Regions from separate parts of the Homo sapiens genome. Here regions 1 and 2 are each linked to region 3. The links come from fine-mapping of genetic effects on gene expression. A gene starts in region 3. Each other region holds a variant in brackets. All regions are shown on one strand. Distances are between the middles of the regions.

What was found.
Region 1: its variant is fine-mapped to the expression of PLA2G2A in liver (GTEx, PIP 0.96).
Region 2: its variant is fine-mapped to the expression of PLA2G2A in lung (GTEx, PIP 0.96).

What each region holds. Positions count from the first base shown.
Region 1 is chr1:19,915,033-19,917,532 of GRCh38, reverse strand. No RefSeq gene overlaps it. Among named protein-coding and RNA genes, the nearest start is that of PLA2G2E, 7.3 kb to the left of the region's middle. The variant C/T (reference allele first, on the strand shown) is at 1,150.
Region 2 is chr1:19,957,539-19,960,360 of GRCh38, reverse strand. No RefSeq gene overlaps it. Among named protein-coding and RNA genes, the nearest start is that of PLA2G2A, 21 kb to the left of the region's middle. The variant C/T (reference allele first, on the strand shown) is at 1,639.
Region 3 is chr1:19,978,567-19,981,066 of GRCh38, reverse strand. It overlaps PLA2G2A (phospholipase A2 group IIA), which reads left to right and starts at 1,449. Exons shown (of 5, transcript NM_001395463.1): 1 at 1,449-1,487; 2 at 2,188-2,333. The coding sequence starts at 2,294. RefSeq lists an enhancer at 2,306-2,500.

The DNA of each region.
Region 1 (2,500 bases), 64 kb after region 3:
TTAGTAGAGACGGGGTTTCACCGTGTTAGTCAGGATGGTCTCGATCTCCTGACCTCGTGATCCGCCTACCTCGGCCTCCCAAAGTGCTGGGATTACAGGCGTGAGCCACCGCGCCTGGCCAATAAATGTTTGATGACGGGATCAAGGGGCCTGCTTAAATCCTGTTTGCCTATGTGTGCGTATCTAGAGAACCCTTGATACCCAGCAGCAGACTTGCAAAAGAGACTGAAAAAAAGGAAGGGAGAAGCCTGAACTTGAACTGGGAGGTTCCAGGTAGAGCGCTTTGTTCTGCCGCTTTAGCAGCAGTGGCTCTGCTTAGACCTTTGCTATTCAACGTGGTCCATGGGCAGGGGCAGCCGCAGAAGCAGCAGCAGGGATCCTGTTCAAAATGCAGAATCTTGGACCTGACCCCAGACCTGCTGAATCAGAATCTGTAAGTTAACAAGCCCCCCTGATGATTCGTGTGCACATTAAAATCTAAGTGCTGATAAATGGAGTCTCAGTCTCTGCATTTGTCAAATGGAAGTATGACATTTCCCCAGCAGGCTGGTTATGGCAAAGTTTGAGATAACATGCATGAAAATGTACAAATAATGGCTAGCACTGAAAAATCACTCGTGTTCTAGGAATGAATGAATGGATAGTCATTAACAATAGCTAACACTTGCTGTGCACTAGGCATTTGCCAGGCACTGTTGTAAGTGCTTTATGTGTGCTAATTCATTGGATGAGTAAAGTAGGCAACGGGACTGTGTCAAAGCTGGGGAGGGGACATTCTTACCTAAATGTTTCATAGTTTGCCTCTCCAATTTTGATGAGAGGATTTGGATTGGTTTTGCTTTTGTTCCTATTTAGCACCTAACAAAAGCTATGCATGAAGTGCAAAGGTAAAGACCTTCCTCAATTAGTGACCAGAAATCACAGTGGAATTCCCAAGTTCAATGAGGAGTCTGATTAGGATTTCCTGGACATGCATCTGCTTCACTGGGGTTCTTTGCAATGTCACCACCAGAGAACTGAATACTAAAGTTAATTCTTTCCTTCAATAAGTTTTATGCAAATTATGCTTCTGGTCTTTTCCTGGATGCTGGAGATAGACACGAATCAGACAGAGTCAACCAGCAGACAGAAAACAGCAATAATTCTACA[C/T]TAGCAAGTAATGTGACACCCCTAACAAGAGAGTATCAGGACTAATGGTTCTTAAACCCTCCATCCTTCATCACATCTCCATCCTGTCCACTGATGCCAGCTTCATTTTCCCAGAGCCTGATTTTCATCATGTCACTCCTCTGCTCCTGAACCATCAGTGACTCCCCATTGTCCACCAGCCCCTGGTATTCCAGGCTTGGTGTCATCTGCTTTTCCAGCCTCTTATGCAGCAATATCTATTTACTAAGCTCCTCTGCTGTCCTGCCTTCATATCCTTGTGCAGTAGCTTCTCTCAACCTAAAAGCCTCCCTTGCCCACAGGCACATCACCACGCTAAAATCCATGGGCTTAAAGTGAATCCCAAATGTCGTCTCTTCCTTTATATTCAGAGACAGGGTCTCCCTCTTGCCCAGGTTGGACTGCAGTGGCACGATCATAGTTCACTGCAGCCTTAACCTCCTCGACTCAAGCAAGCCTCCCACCTTAGCCTCCCACGTAGCTGGGACAACAGGTGTGTGCCATCAATTCTGGCTAACTTACTTATTTTTGGTAGAGACCGGGTCTCGCTATGTTGCCAGGCTGGTCTCAAACTCCTGGCCTCAAGCAATCCTCCTGCCTCAGCCTCCCAAACTGTTGGGATTACAGGGATAAGCCACCCTGCCCAGTCCCAAATGTCACCTTTTCTATGATGCTGTTTCAATTGGAGCGGATTTCACCCTCCTTGAACTGCCAAGCTGTGTTTATACCTTTCCTAGAACTGCTTATCCCGTTATTTGGGTCCTTGCATGGTGGCGGCAGACTGCTCTGGGTTCAAATCCTGTCTCTGCTACTAAGCTGTGATCTTGGGACAATTATTTATTCCTGAATAGAACCATCAGCCTCACAGGGTGGTTTTCAAGTTCAAATGAGACCATGTATCCAAAGTGTCCGGGGCATGCTAGCTGCTCCATCTACGCTTGGCCACCTTCTGTATTTTTGCTCTCCAATTGCAAATGTCACACAGTAGATGCTAAACAGGTACCTGTTCAATTGAATTCTGCGCTAATGTCCCCCAAAGGCAGAGATAGATGGTGCAGCATTTTTCCAGGCAGGCGCTACCTGTAACATTGCCAGGTTAGAATGCACACACAGGCCAACTCCAGACACTAAAAAGCCGTCAGGCAGATCTTTGTTGTTTTGGGGTTTTGAGACAGGGTCTCACCCTGTCACCCAGGCTGGAGTGTTGTGGTGTGATAAAGCTCACTGCAGCCTAATACTCCTGAGCTCAAGTGATCCTCCTGCCTCAGCCTCCTGAGTAGGAGGGACTACAGACAGGCACCCAGCCCCAAACCCCAGTAATTTTGTGTGTGCA
Region 2 (2,822 bases), 21 kb after region 3:
AAAGAAAAAGAAAACGAAAACTTCCCAAGGACCATTTTTCCTCTCAATCTGCCTAAAATAATTTCTTAATAACTCCTACAACCCTCTGGGACAGTGCTTTTGGGATTGTGGCCTTTTTGCTGTCATGTCTTTGTGTCTCTCCACCGCACCTACTCTCACTTCACAAAGACTGGTGTGGTGAGGAGCAAATGGACCTCTCAGATCTGAGCTCTGTCACCCACCCACTGGGCCACCCAGAGCAGGTTCCTGAACTTCTCTGAGTCTCCGATTTCCTATATGAACAGAAGACAGCAACAGCTCATTGACTTGTGGGAATAACACGTGATACCACCCCTTCCCTGGGGAAGGAGGGCGCCTCTAAAGCAGTTGGACTGAGGGGCACATAGGTTGACAGGGGATGGGCTTGCAGGACCTCCTTCTGTTTCCTTCTCACTCAGGCTTTTTGAGAGAGGATACTTGGCACAAAACATGTAATTATGCTATAAGAGGACATGAGAGAGATGGATTTGTCCCATAGATGGTCTGCTCTGAAGTATACAAACATCCACTGCTATGCTCCCAAGACAACACCAGCCTCAGACATGAGGACACGCCTTGTGCTGGCCATGCCACAGGCAGCGGAGGACTGGAATTGGGTAGAAAGGGAGGGAAGGAGGGAGGCTGAGAGGAGGCACCCATGAGGAGACCTCGGAACTGATAAGTGGAGCCCAGCCATGCCCAAAGCAAATCACCTCTAGACTCAAAACACTACTAGACTTGAGCCAGGAGCTGTTAGCAGGGCACCTGCGAGCAGAAGGGTGCCACAGCTGGGTGAGAGTCCCGCCCAACCCTCAGCGAGTTGGAATGTCTTCTCAGCCAGACAAGGACAGCAGAGGGCCAAGTGTGGTGACAGCAGGGATCCTCTCAGAGCAGGGAAGGTTCCTGAATGTGCCAGGCCTCTGAGCCCAAGCCAAGCCATCGCATCCCCTGTGACTTGCACGTGTACATCCAGATGGCCTGAAGTAACTGAAGATACACCAAAGAAGAAAAAATAGCCTTAACTGATGACATTCCACCATTGTGATTTGTTCCTGCCCCACCCTAACTGATCAATGTACTTTGTAATCTCCCCCACCCTTAAGAAGATTCTTTGTAATTCTCCCCACTCTTGAGAATGTACTTTGTGAGATCCACCCCTGCCCGCAAAACATTGCTCTTAACTTCACTGCCTATCCCAAAGCCTATAAGAACTAATGATAATCCACCACCCTTTGCTGACTCTCTTTTCAGACTCAGCCCACCTGCACCCAGGTGAAATAAACAGCCATGTTGCTCACACAAAGCCTGTTTGGTGGTCTCTTCACACGGACGCGCATGAAAGAATGGACGCTTCAACCAAGAACAGGGGTTTCACTTTACAGTCTGAATTGATGAGGAAGGGTGGTCCCCCACCCCTGCTCGGGGAGGTCCTTGCATGAGGTTTCAGGGCAGAAGAGGACTGTTGGGGAGTGGTGCTCCCCCCTGCACCAGGCAGCGGGCAGTGTTTGCAAGGAGGCAGTGTTTGCAAGCACCTGATTAAATCTTTCTTCCTTGGCAATACTTGTCATCTCAGTGATAGGCTTTCTGGATGAAGAACAATGTACCAAGTTCAACTCACCA[C/T]GGAGCCAGAGCTCCGTCATAGTTGGGAGTGGTGAATCTCACTGGGTTTCCTTCTCGCTGGAGGAAGGAAAGTTCCTTGAATGGGATACAGCAGAGATGACAGGACGACGTCAACCAGCCTGAGACCAGGTTCCACCCACAAGTGGCACTGCCTGCACTGTGAACCCCTAGGCTTGAACAACTGGGGACTCGTGGGAGATGTAGGGCAGGTATCAGGGCAAGAAAAACTTGCCTCCTTAAGGATCAAACACCCTTCAGAGAAGCTACAGCCATGGAGACTATGGTAGACTGAATATCCCAAAGATACCTACTTCCTAATCCCTGCAACCTGTGAAGGTAACCTTCTGTGACAGAAGGACTTTGCAGATATGATCAAATCAAGGAATTTGGGATAGGGAGATTATCCTGGATTATCCAGGTAGGCCCTAAATGTAATCACAAACTCCAGAGGGAGTGCGGCCCTGCCTATACCTTGATCCGCACACAGCAAAACTGATTTTTGGATTTCTGACCTCCAGAGCTGTAAGATAATAAATGTGTGTTATTTTAAACCACCGAGTTTGTGGGAGTTTGTTTTACAGGCCTGGGCAACTAAGAGATAGACACACAAATTGGATTAAGGAGATCCTGGAAGACTGGGAAGGAGGTGGGAGATGTCTGCCGGCACAAGGGCAGGCCTTGGGCAGGGAGAAGCTGAAGGAAGTGGAAGCCAGGCCTCCTGGTGGATGGGTAGGGATTGCGGGACAGGCCAGGGAAGCAAGCTGAGAGCCTGCAGGACCAGGAATGTCCCTGCCCCATGCTCAAATCCTTGAGAGGTCCAAGGTCCACAAGAACCTCAGTGCTGTGGGAGTTGATTTGAGTGGAAAAAGAGAAAATCAAGGTAATCAAGAATCAGATCCAGGGAAGCAAACAGGAGAGCACGTGGTGGTGAGATGGCATTTGGAACCAGGTTTGTATTCAAATGTTCAAGGAGAGCAGGAAGAGTGGATGAAAAGTACCAGCTCCAAGACCAGTGCCTTCCCTGTGCATAGTTGAGCCGACTCCTAACAGCTTAGTGTCTGGGAACAGTCACTCAGAATGACATGTGTAAGGGAAGGTGGTGTTAACACCTGGGGAAATTCCTGGACTAGCTGCTCAGAGATTGGGCCTTGCTGAGAATTTTGGAAGTACTGCAACCATGACTG
Region 3 (2,500 bases):
CCTATTTTTAAATAAGATCACATTCTAAGGTACCGGGACTCCAACACAGGAACTGAGAGCAGGAAGGAGGACCACAGTCCAACCCCTTACACAGTCGAGCACTGGAGGTAAATGGTATTCTCGAGAGGAAAGCTGTTTGATGGCTCTTGGGATAGATTAGGTTATGCTCCAGCAACTGCCCATCTCAATTATCATCAGCTTAATACAACAAAAGTCTATTTCTCACTCACACTAAGACCCCTGTGAGCTGCAGGACTTTCTAGGACAACTGTCTTCCGTGCCATGATTCTTACACCCCAGATTGCTTTCATCTTCTGGTTCTACCAGTGGGGCAGGGAAGGGCTGGGGAGTTGCATCTCATAGTCCCCTTGCTGGAGAAACCTGGAAGTGACCCTTCATACCAGTGCTCATGTTTTACCAGTCAGCAGCAGGGCCCTAGGTCTCCATCCCTGCAAGGGGCTCTAGAGTGTAGGGAACAGATGGAATGTTCACAAGCACCACAGCCCCTGCCACAGTGACTTTTTTAGGACTGGTATCGCAGAGTGTTTACTTAAGGCGGTGGAAGCTAAATTCTTAGCATGTGCTGGAGAGCAATGAAAAAGATATTTACTTTATGAATTAAAGCTGGAGTCAGTGTCAGCCCGAAGGCTGAAGGAAAAAGAGCAACAGATCCAGGGAGCATTCACCTGCCCTGTCTCCAAACAGGTGAGGATGGGGAATAAAGTGAAGGCAGTGCTTTGGTGGGAACTTCAAGGATAGCCTCTGGCTTTTTCCAGGTTTAGAAGCTCATATGAGACAGGGGTGGAGGAAAAGAAGAAAGAAGAATAAGAAGAGAAAGTTGAGGCCCTGGCCCAAGTTAGTGGGAAGGGAAATCCACCCCCATTAAACTCTCTCCCTGGTGGACTGTGGGGTGCACACGTGAGGCCTGCACAGGTGCTGGAACATGGTAGAGGCCCAGGACATACTTCCTGTGAATGAATGATTGAGCGGCTGAATGAATGAGTACCACTAAAAGCCCTCTTTTCTATTCCCAAATGCCACATTGAGCAGAAGGGAGCAATCCTTGCTCAGCAATTGGTAGTCCCTTTGGGTGTGCAAATGAGTCCACAGCCTGCAACAGCAGACAGTCTCTGCCCCCCTTAGAGGCGATTGCAGGGAGGTGGCTGACCGTTGATCACACCCAGAGCTGGTTATGGGAATTTACTCCATGGAAAGACTGCAAAACTGCCTGAAATGTGTTTTGGCATCAGCTACTGACACGTAAGGTTTCCCAATCCTCAACTCTGTCCTGCCAGCTGATGAGGGGAAGGAAAGGGATTACCTAGGGGTATGGGCGACCAATCCTGAGTCCACCAACTGACCACGCCCATCCCCAGCCTTGTGCCTCACCTACCCCCAACCTCCCAGAGGGAGCAGCTATTTAAGGGGAGCAGGAGTGCAGAACAAACAAGACGGCCTGGGGATACAACTCTGGAGTCCTCTGAGAGGTAAAGAGCCAGCGAAGCTGATGTCCTGTCAAGAGCAGAATTCCTGCTCATTCGCTGCCTTTGAGAGTGGCTGTGTTGTGCATGCATGTGCATGATTTGATATGTATGAGAGGGTGTGTGTGCATGAGTGTGTTGAGTGAGTATGTGAGTGTAGTGTAAGAGAGGATGTTGGCACTATCAGGTAAGTACGAGAGTGTGTGTATGTGGGCATAGGTGTGTTAACATGTATGTGTTTGGGAACTTGTGTATGTGGAAGGGGTTAGAAGGCCTAGAAGAGAGAGGTTGATGCTTTCATTCTGGAGGAAAATACTGAGGCCGAGCCTCCATGGGTGCCTTGGAGACTCCAAGCCTTGAATCCAGTGTGGGGATATGCAAGCTATGTCTAGCGAGGGACACATCCTCTGACCTCAGGAACCTCCCAGGTAGTTGGGAGGAACCTGGTTCCAACCTCCCAAGAACTCTCAGTCTGATGAGGTACAGGGGAGGTCTCATTAGTGTATCATGGGGTTCTCCACAGGTCTGAGGGCCTGATGTGTGTGAAACCATTCTGCAGAGCTGGGAACGGGTCAGGAGGTGGTTGTGTGTGTGTGTGTGTGTGTGTGTGTGCATTGCTGGAGGGCACTCCTTGTGTGCTCTGAGTGTGACAGAGGAAGTCACCCTGGACTTAGGTTGGATGGGAGAGCATGTCTGTGTGTCTCAGAGCCACCAAGGAGGAGCAGGGGAGCGACGGCCGGGGCAGAAGTTGAGACCACCCAGCAGAGGAGCTAGGCCAGTCCATCTGCATTTGTCACCCAAGAACTCTTACCATGAAGACCCTCCTACTGTTGGCAGTGATCATGATCTTTGGTAAGAGCTGACCCTGACCTCTGAGCATGGGGGGACAGCCCCAGAAGGGAAGCACTCTTGTCCCTTAGTTTTCTCTCCCATTGCAGTGATCCTCTCTCAGGGGGAAAAAAGAAGCCATTTGGGAGGAAGGAGAGTAGCAGAGAGGGGCAGAGAGGGAGGGCGCAGAA